Linked DNA regions of Homo sapiens: region 1 is linked to region 2. The links come from fine-mapping of genetic effects on gene expression. A gene starts in region 2. The other region holds a variant in brackets. All regions are shown on one strand. Distances are from middle to middle. Region 1 overlaps MOB3B (MOB kinase activator 3B). Region 2 holds the start of MOB3B (MOB kinase activator 3B).

The links. PIP is the estimated chance that this variant, and not a neighbour inherited with it, causes the effect.
Region 1: its variant is the best candidate, but not a certain one, in a credible set for the expression of MOB3B in whole blood (TOPMed, PIP 0.62).

What each region holds. Positions count from the first base shown.
Region 1 is chr9:27,480,431-27,485,810 of GRCh38, reverse strand. The region is part of intron 1 of MOB3B (MOB kinase activator 3B); the gene reads left to right. Among named protein-coding and RNA genes, the nearest start is that of IFNK, 41 kb to the left of the region's middle. RefSeq lists a silencer at 432-561. The variant A/C (reference allele first, on the strand shown) is at 2,199.
Region 2 is chr9:27,527,860-27,533,176 of GRCh38, reverse strand. MOB3B (MOB kinase activator 3B) reads left to right here and starts at 3,363. Exons shown (of 4, transcript NM_024761.5): 1 at 3,363-3,622. It overlaps LOC124902107 (dapper homolog 3-like), which reads right to left and starts at 4,721. Exons shown (of 2, transcript XM_047424279.1): 1 at 4,451-4,721; 2 at 2,477-4,157. The coding sequence starts at 4,721. The coding sequence ends at 3,169. RefSeq lists silencers at 3,316-3,615, 4,586-4,635.

The DNA.
Region 1 (5,380 bases), 47 kb after region 2:
TTCTGCCATTTTTTTCCTATTACAAAAGGAATATAATCTCAATGCCTTTAACTCAATAAACACAGAAGAGAACAAGGGGGAAAAATTGATATCATGGTAATTCTGCTGTTGACATTTTGTAGAGCTGTGTTTTAAAGAAGAGTAATTTTCCATGAGGGTAGAGAGGGAAGAGAATGTAGGATGTAAAATCAGTTTGAGATGGTCCACACAAAAGTCGATATGAAAGTGAAATGTAAAGCAGGAGCCATTGGAGTGCAAAGAAAGGGGCTAATATTGGAGACATTCCAGAGACAGAATCAGTGAGATTTGCCCAAGGCAATGCTGACATTTGGGGCTTTGTGATTGGGAGACAGATGTAGCTCTTAACAGAAATAGTGGTGTTGGAGAGGCCTTGAGTCCTAGAAAGGAAATAGGCTTTAGAGCCAGCAGAGGTGGGTTTCAGTTCTGGTTCTGCAAGCAAGTCACCTAACCTCAGTGAACCCATTTCCTTCCTGTGTAAAATGAGCTCCACAGTCCCTACCTTGCCAGGTTGTTGTTGGGTAAGTTACTTAACCTTTCTCAGCTTCTTTATCTGTTAAGATAGGAATAATAACAGTACTTACCTCATGGGTTGTTTCGAGGATTAAATGAGTTAATATTGTAGAATAAGTGATATATAGAAGTATTTGCTATGATCCTTGTTGTTATTGATATATTATCAATATATGGACTGGATGCCCTTGAGACATCCAGCTGAAACTGTCCATCTGGCCACGCAAAACACTTGTCTCGAACTTGGATCCGTGGTCTGTTTAAAAATACTGGCAAGGCCAATTTTCCGGGGTGGTTCATGTGTTGTCAGGGTTAAAGGCTGGGAGTCAAGTTTCCATTAACTGAGGTATAATGGTCACTGTACTCCATGTCCCAGAGTCCCCTTCTAAAGTGGATACCTCAACCTGACTGTGTGGATGTAGTTTACTAGCTGGTACCCTGGTGAGCTCATGCCTGGGTTTGACAGCCTGCAGAAAAAGCCTGAGGATGCATGGAACGCTGAGTTCTCAGGGCAGGGTAGAGGAGGCCGGGGGTCGGGGGGTTGATTTGTGCAAGCACCAAACCCACAGGGCAGGTGCAAGGCTCAGGAGGTGGGCAGACATGAAATGCACAGGAACAAGCAAACAGAAGGGAATTATCCTGGGACTGCTATTCATGAAGCCTTTATGGTGGCCCTTTAATGTGGATAGGTTAAAGTGACTCGAAGGTTGAAGGCTAACAAAATATTTTCAAATTCTTTATGCTTTTTATTTAAAGTAAAAATAAATGAAAAATAATGCACTTCAGTTTGCTCTCTTCTTACTGCCTCCCACTCATCAGTTTTGCACAGGGAGAAATGTCCACTTGCCATGGCTTCTTACTCCCGCCTGAGTTTTTTGTTTTGTTTTTAGCATAGACCCATTATAACTGAAAGCAAACAGCCCACCTTCTCAACCCCCTACATGGCAGACAGGGGGCTGCTGTGGAAATGCTGGGAGACCTTGTTAGATCAGTGTCTTCTGTGATGGCTGTTTATTATCTCTTCCCGTTTTTCTCTGAGTTAATGGGATCCTCTGAATGGGAGCCCTTAGAAAGACTCCTGATCACTTCTATGTTCAACTCACCCTCAGCTCCAGACAACTGTGATAGGACCTGCATTTTGAGAAGAGCATATATTATGAAATGCAGGTAACAATTCTCACTTGGGGCATCCCTGCCCCTCAAAGATGCAGGAAGAACTTGGCCTGAACCCCAATGCTTGGCATCATAAGCTCGTTATGGGCCCTCACCCTGCCCTGGCACTCCTTAGTGGCTCTGTCACCTGGACTCAAACCCTTATCCCCTACAAGAAATCCAGTGGAAAGCAGCATTTTCCAGAGTCTGTAGCTTTTTTGAAGATTTCATTCATGAAGGGCGAGCAGCAGCAAATGGACCACTCAGCTGTGACACACCCTCTGCCATTTCCCCCTACGTCGCTTCACATCCTATTAATACCAGCTCTCTTTGCACCCTCCTGCTGTACATGGGACCAGGTCTTTTAAGATTTTCTGAGGCCTTAGTTCCTCTTCTGCCCACGAGCATACCAAACATAACAACGTGCACCCACACCTCACATTAAATATAATCTGTGCAGCAAGCGATGAAAAGCACCTTTATAATTGGGCCTTTGAAATCATTTGACTGTAAGT[A/C]TGTCATTCAATTTATGATTAGCTCTGTTTTCTCAGGAGCTATGCAGTCAAGAATTCTTAAAAAGAAAGTCAGCTTAACTTACTAATTGTTTTCATGCACAAGAAAATATTTTTAAAATATTTTGAAACAAAATGTTATTGAAATTTGTTAGATTTAACAATGAAAGAAGTACCATATATTGGCCGGGCGCGGTGGCTCACGCCTGTAATCCCAGCACTTTGGGAGGCCGAGGCGGGCGGATCACAAAGTCAGGAGATCAAGATCATTCTGGCTAACACGGTGAAACCCCGTTTCTATTAAAAATACAAAAAATTAGCCAGGTGTGGCAGCGGGCGCCTGTAGTCCCAGCTACTCGGGAGGCTGAGGCGGGAGAATGGCGTGAACCCGGGAGGCGGAGCTTGCAGTGAGCCAAGATGGCGCCACTACACTCCAGCCTGGGCGACAGAGCAAGACTCCGTCTCAAAAAAAAAAAAAAAAAAAAAAAAAGTACCGTATATTTGTAGACATTTACTTAAACATTTGGTAATTGTCATGTTTATCTCTTTGTATTTTGGAAACAATTATCTCTTTTAAGCCCTCAAATATGTATGTGCACCTCTTAAAGATATTAAACTGCAAGCGCTGTAGCTATGTTTTCCAGTGGATAAGACAGGTTAGCAGGAGGCCTGTTCAAGGCAAGATACTCTAGGAAAAGAGTCCAGTCCTTATCCTGGCTTCATTTCTCTCCAGAAGCAGCCTTATCAGGCCAACCCATTTTCCCCATGTGCCTTCTGATGAATACAATTTTCTTTGTCTCATTACACAAATTTTTGCAGAGTACAACCAAACTTAAAAACGGCCATGTGGTGCATTCCTTATACAGGGATTTTGTCAGGAACCTCAAGCAACTTTTAGAGAATGCTTCACTTGGAAAGGGTTTGGTGGGAAGTACAGATGGGGAGATAAAGACATCTGGGCAGGCCACCAGCACGGGCAATGGTGTAGAGGCAGAGGTTGAGATGCAACTGAGCCAGGTCTGAAAAGCCTTGGAAGCCACACTGAACATTTGAGACCTTACCTCATAGTAAGGTCTATGGGGAAGAACTGACATTCCAGGAACTGGCTCAAAGAGTAACTTAAGGTGAATGTTGTGGATTTTTCTTTTCCTTTCTCTTCTTCCTCCTCTCCATTCTTTTAGGCACAGAGCATTCCTTTTAACATTGCCGTTTTTCTTAATAGCTAGATAAGCCCAGGTATCCAGTAAGCCCCCAAAGGAGACTTGGTGTAAGCAGACCTGGTGGAACAAACATCCAGACCATCCAGACATTATTATGAGTTTTGAGTGGCCAGTGGGGCTCCATGTGCTTTATGTTTGGATTATTTAATGTTTTTCCCGTCCTTTAATGTTAGGTCTCTTCAGCCAAATGATAAGGTTGAACAGGGCGGAAATTACAGGGTGGGGATCACAGTGGCGTTTTAGCATAAGCCTTCGCTTCCATTCATGTTTCAGTGGTTTGAAAGAGTTGTTTTTTTATTCCACCCTTTTGCTTTATGTTTTTTTGTTTTTGCATTTTATTTACCGTGCTTTTCGTTCATTTGTTTCATCTTATCTCTTTTCTTCCCTCCACTGGATCAATAGCATTTTATTTCCTTTTTTCAGTGTTTGCTTTTTAAAAAAAAATTCATGGCTGATGTTTAAAATTCTGATTTCCCATAAAACTCCGAGTTCCCAGGTTTTTGAAAGTTAACATATGTGACATTGGACTGTATTCCCACATGGCAACGATCTGTAAGAACTACCTTCCTTAGGCTGGGCGCGGTGGCTCACGCCTGTAATCCTTGCACTTTGGGAGGCCGAGGCGGGCAGATCATGAGGTCAGGAGATCGAGACCATCCTGGCTAACACAGTGAAACCCCATCTCTACTAAAAATACAAAAAATTAGCTGGGCATGGTGGCGGGCGCCTGTAGTCCCAGCTACTTGGGAGGCTGAGGCAGGAGAGTGGCATAAACCTGGGAGGCGGAGCTTGCAGTGAGCCGAGATCACGCCACTGTACTCCTGCACTCCAGCCTGGGCGACAGAGCTAGACTCCGTCTCAAAAAAAAAAAAAAACAAAAAAAACAAAAAAAAAAAAACTACCTTCCTTAGACAGGTACACGCTTACCAGTTTACCCCAGGCGCCACCACACTCTATTGTCTCCCTGACCCTGAGGAGACATCAGTTGTGGTTATTTGGGTTGTTGCTTTCCTACACCTGGCTGTTTACTCAGTTATGTGACCTACTCTGCCCCAGTAAGCATTTCAGTTTGCCATCATCTTTTAGCTGGAGCATTTAGTTGATTTACATTTGTTATAATTAACTGTACCGATATATTTTAGTCCATATCTGCTGGAGTCTTTTGTGCTGTTTGTTGCACAGTTTCTATGTTTCTTCTCGCCTTTTTTGTCTTTTTATGGATGAGCGAGTTCATTGTCTCACTCTGTTTTTTCTTCTGCACCACTCTGAAAGGCATACTGTTTTATTCTTTCAGAGATTAGCCTAGTAATTATAGCATGCGTCTTTAACTTACTAAATTCTAAAGTGATCAATAGTTTTACCTTCCTTTGAATAACACCCTTCTTATTTATCCCTCCCCGCAATTCTTACACTAGTCTTTTGAGTATTTTAAGTCTATATAATTTTTCAAACTCCACAAGGCATCGTTTCTTTTATTCTTTTATAGAGTCAGTGCTTGTATTGATTTACTTATATATTTATCATTTTCTGTTCTCTTAATTCTTTCTTATATTCTTACATCCTTAAAATTCCTTCTTTTTTTCATATTTTGTCTGTATATGTCTCATTTGAGTATTCTTTTTCCCCCTTTCCTTTCTTCTACTACTTTAGAAGTTATACAATTCTGCCTAGGCACGGTGGCTCACGCCTGTAATCCCAGCACTTTGGAAGGCCCAGGCAGGCAGATCAAGAGATCAAGACCATCCTGGCCAACATGGTGAAACCCTGTCTCTACTAAAAATACAAAAATTAGCTGGGGCCAGGCACGGTGGCTCACATCTGTAATCCTAGCACTTTGGGAGGCTGAGGCAGTCGGATCACAAGGTCAGGAGATCAAGACCATCCTGGCTAACATTGTGAAACCCCGTCTCTACTAAAAAATGCAAAAAATTAGCCGAGCATGGTGGCGGGTGCCTGTAGTCCCAG
Region 2 (5,317 bases):
GAGATCCAAAAACCTTTTTTTCTATATTTGCAATGCAAGGCAGTTGGGAATTAATGACTGATTTGTTGGTGAGGGCAGTGGGCATTGATCACAAAAGCAGTAAAGCTGTGTTTCTCAAAGAGAGAAAGTCTCTTTGAGATCTTCATTATTTTACTATTTAGAAGAGAAAGGGGCGTTATATCACGTTGGAAGCATCCATGAGTCACTAGTCTCTTCTCTATCTTTCTATGCCTTTCTGTATTAATTACTTTGAAAGCACAACATTCCAAACCCATTGAGCACACAGTGGTCTGATTTCTCCACTTGTGAAAGGTGCTAAAGTCTCACTGTAGGATTAATTTGGGGGTCCAGGCTATGGGCTTGTAGATATGACTACCTTAGACTTTGGTTCTCCTGGCAACTAACCCTTTTTGGATCGTATCTAAGTTGACCTGTTTCACAGTGAGAGAACTCCTCTCCATTACTCAGAATACTGAGGCAGATCACAAGTGTACCACACCTGGCTAATGTTAAGCCAGACAGAAACATCAGGCTCATCTCTTGAGAAGAAGGGTCGCTTATTAAGGATACAAACTATTTTTTTTTTTTTTTTTTGAGACAGGGTCTCATTGCCCAGGTTAGAGTGCAGTGGTGCAATCATAGCTCACTGCAGCCTCAACCACATGGGTATTTTTAAATAAGAAAAAAATACCATCTGATAGATATGAAGGAGCATTGGGTCACTATAAACAAAACAGATTCTAAGAGCAGGAAGAAAGAGTACAGTCTCTTTTCAATAATTTTTTTTTAAACTTGGGAAAGAACACTCACTCTATTCCTATAGACCAGAAAGCAGATAATTGTCCATTATGATTCCACATGACACTATCTTGTTCAGCTGTCACTGAAACAACTTTGAACACTGTCATATGTTCTTCCCAGCTCCTGAACTCTGACCTTTTTATGCCTTAGTTCCACTTTCACAAAAAGGGATTGATGTAATGTGCATTTCAGAGGAAACGACTATAGACATTTAGTGTCATTATAAATGTTGAGAAGTATGCTGGCAGAAATTATGCCTTAAGATCATATATGGATTCTTGTATGGTTTGAAATTGCTTAAAAGATATATATGATCTCTAAAATGTGTGTGTATATATATATGATGTCTTCTTATATATCTATATGTGATATATTTATATATATATAAATCTGTGTATATCACATATATAAATTTGCTGTTATTTGAATTGCCATTACCTCAGTGCTTAGGGGAAGCCATGCACGTTTGTTTCTTTTCAGTACCCAGAGTTAATTAACATAAGTTATCACAGAAGCTCCCATAAGCATTGAGACAATTTCTCTATACCTGTGACTATTTAAGGTTTTGAAAACAAAACAGAAGCAGGTAAGGAGGAAGTACGCTTTACTATTGAAGATTTATTAGGTACACATTTAGATTTGTGAACTCACATTGCTTAGGATGAAAGGGACTCTTGAGGATGTCTGCTGTTTGTTAGTGAACTGCCTGTAACAATTACAATTAGCACACACATGAGCACAATGAACTGGGTAGTCAGACTCAGCCAAAATGAATAGAAATAGCCTCTTACCAAATTTACTTTGAGTAGCCCTTGGACTCTGAGCACTGCTGCCCAGAGCAATATGACTGTAGGTCCAAGTTTGTCAATGACTATGCAAATGTGCTTTCTTCGCTTTTACTCTATTGTCATCTGTCTATTACAATGTTGCTATGGTGACACCTTTCCAATATCCCTGTGCTTCTTTGGTATCCTCTAAGGGGAAGCTGTAATGAAGTGGCTTGGCAAAAGAATCCTCTTGGAATTTTTTTTTTTTCATATGCTACTGAAAACCAGCATGATTTTCCTCTTATGGGAAATGTATAAAGTATGAGTTGGAAATGATGGAAATTAATCTGTACTGACTTGGGCAAGGAATGTGAATGTTATTCATTCTGTTCCAAACTACCTGAAAATATTCTCTTTCTGTTCCTACTTTCCAGGAGATAACATCTTAAGGGACACTGAAGCTTGTGCGTGTGTGAGTAGAACACGTGCTGGGGGCTCTTGAGCTCATGAGGGAGGGGCTACATGTCGGTGGGGTGATAACTGTATGCTGGAAACAATGATAGGTGGTGACCCTGGAGCACTTACCATGTGACAGGTGTTATGCTAAGCATGTTGTATGCATTCCTTCATTGAATGACAGCTACCTATATTATCCTCATTTTATAAGATGAGGTAACAGAGCTTCAGAAAGGTTAGACTCAGCTGCTATGGGTCTGTCTGACTCTGGTGTTCTTCCTCTTAAAAACTGGGGCACTTTGGAAATGAGATTCCTCGGTGATGAACAGAAATATTGCTTAGCGGCTGTATTTTTGTATCTGGCAGTTTTCCCATATTTGAGTCTTATATTCACAATCGGTATCTTTACATTACACAAAAGTGACACAGAATTAGAGTCATTTAATCCAGGGTTGATATCATTAAGTCATGACTATTTATTAAATGTTTCTTACAATATCTGAGATGATATTGCAAAAGATGTAAGTGATTTTAGAAGTTCTCACTTCGTAGTTAGTTGCAGAAACCTCTTTTGGAGGAGGGATGTTTTCTCTATATATCCTAATTTCTACTTAATATATTTCCACACCTCTTTGAAGTGTGTAGTAAGAATGGTAAAATGCAGTACTTCGTCATTTGGTACAGTTCAATCAATATGCATTAAGATGTGATCATATGGGTAATAGAAAAATGTGAAAGATCCAATTCTTTTTCTCCAGAAGGCAGGAAGCTCATATTTGATTTCTGTTACTATAAACTATAAAAACGTTTCAAATGTAGTTTACCCGTAACCATCACCCTGCAAGGGTGATATTGCTCCCCGCCAATTTACGGAGGAGAATACTGAGGCTTTAAGGTTGTAGATAGACCAAGACCACACAAGTAGAGAGTGGCGGGCTGTGGGTTGAGCTTTAAAATCCAGGTTCATCCATGACTCCCAGTGTGTTCTAGTAAATCCACTAGAATCTGAGTATTTTCCAATGATTTATGCTCCGCTCTGTGTCAGGCAGTTCATGGTATTTTTCAACAATCAGAAAATCCTGGGGAAGGCAAACTGTTTCCCCCTCTCTAGGTGCCTTGGAAGTGGCCGTTGTGGACCCAGAGATCATCCTTTCTGATCTGACACCTTCTTCACTGCCCTGGCCCAGTGTCTTTTCTGCAAGGCTGGAAGCCCCCTTAGACTGGTCATGTCCCATCTCTTTCCGGAGGGAAGATGATCCCAAAGACGACTTTTCTCTCCACGGTGCTGCCATACCGCAGGCGGCCGCCAGGGGTCCCCGCTCGGCGTCCCCGCGAGACAGTCGAGCCCCGGCCGGCTGCGCGGCGCGCTGGGTGCATGAGGGGGCTGCTCCGGAGCGACGGCGGCTGCAGCTGGAGCCAGGCGCTCGCCCGTCCGCCGGTTGGCTCGCCGGGACCTCGCGCACCGGCGGCAGAGTCCCTTGCGTGGATTGGCAAGCGACGCCCCACCTGCCCCGAGCTCACCATTTTCTTTCGCGCTGGCTGCAGCTGACCCGGCGAAGGGAGCCGACCGGGCCCTGGGCTGGAGGTAAAACCCCACGGTGAGTAAGAACCCGCTCCAAGCTAGGGGAGGCGGCGCAGCCCGGTGGCTGCTCGCTCCCGATCTCGCCCGGGCGGGCGGCGAGGTTTGGGGCGCACCTGGGCGCGGGTGCAAGAAGGTGCGGGAGGCGGCGGACCGGTCTTCTGCCCGCCGGCCACGGGCTTCCGGGGCTGGAGTCCTCTTCAGACCCCTGCCGGCGCCTGGGTTTCTGGCCGGCTCCTCGTGTGCACTTCCCGGCAGGAACAAGGGTCGCCCACTTTCCACCCCGGGATCTTGATTTGTCCTTGATTTGAAAAGATATAAATCAATAAGATCGTCCTTCTTTCGGGGTGCAAGACTCCGAGCCCATCCCCAGCCGCGGACGCCTGCAGGGTGCGTGTTGGGCTGTGGGTGGCGGGAAGACAAACTTTTACAAAAGTGCGCCTGGGCTGGGGGACAACGCTTGGGCGTCCTGATCCTGAGGGAGGAGTCTCGGCTTGGGGCAGCGTAGGGGAAGTCCGCACCGTCAGCCAGGTCGCCCCCGGGGCTGACGATGCCTCACGGAGGTGGGGAGCGTGTAAAGGCCGTACAAATCGCGCTTAACTTTGGGGCCAACAACTGTCAAACATCTGGAATCCCAGCCCCTCCCTTTCCCTGAACTGGGGAAGAAGGTGAAAACCCTTCAAGTTTTCTTTGATTGCCCCTTCCCACCTTCAGACCCCTGCTGGGAGGGTAAAGCGCCGACCCCTGGTGCCTGGCAAGTACCAGAGACTCTAAATCTCTCGGGATCCCCCCCCTCGCGCTCTTTCCTGACCCTCTCCCCTAACCCTCCCCACAGAGATCTCTCTACGCAGCCGACTGAGATCGTGGCGAATGGCCTTTTGTTTCTCCGCGTTTCCCCTATTGTTTGCCTTTCCAACATCTGGCGGGGCTTGGGGAGAGAAGGAAGCCCCTCTGGTCCCCCTCCCCGGCCCCCACGCCAGCTCCGGCAGGGGATCCCAGCTGGGAAAGTGGAGGAGCCCGACCCCAGCGAGGCCGCCCCACCCCGCCCTTGTGGTTAGAGGGCGGAGGGAAAGTTGTTCCTTCCCCGCCTCCGCTGCTGCCTGTGGCCCAGGGCGCATTTCTCAGATCTCAGCCCAGGCGCGCCGCAAAGGCTCAAATCCGAGAAGGTGCTGCTTTCGAGACAGTGGAAGCGCGTTCCGCCCCAATCCAGAGCGTCCAGTGGTTGGTTCCAGAGGATTTCAATCTCTAGCCAAAGGCGTTGGGGCTGGGCCGCTGCTAGGGCAGTGGGAGGGGATCGGGGCACCTTTGGTAGGCGGAAAGCTGAGATTCTGGGGTCCACAAGTTTCCAAGGGCGGGAGGGCAGGCTAGTCGCCAAAAAGAGAACGAAGATGCAAATAACGAGGAAGCCTTATGACGTTGCCTGGAAATAGTAGTGTGGTGGTTCACTCCGGAATGAACGTGGAGTTCTGGCTTTGAGTACCGCTCCAAGTTTAAATCCCAAGTCCCCTTTCTTCATTGTAGAAAAAGAGGACTCAGACGACGCAACACAGATACGGCTAGAGCACAGTTCCTGCTTCCACGTCCCAGAGAACAAGTGGCTTAGGATGGTCCCGAGTTCCCCTGTGGGTGCGCTTGTTGGGTTGCAGGCGGCCCTGTTTCCCTGCACAAGTCAGATGCTTACACATTGTGTTCATTCTTAGTGTGGATTATTGAT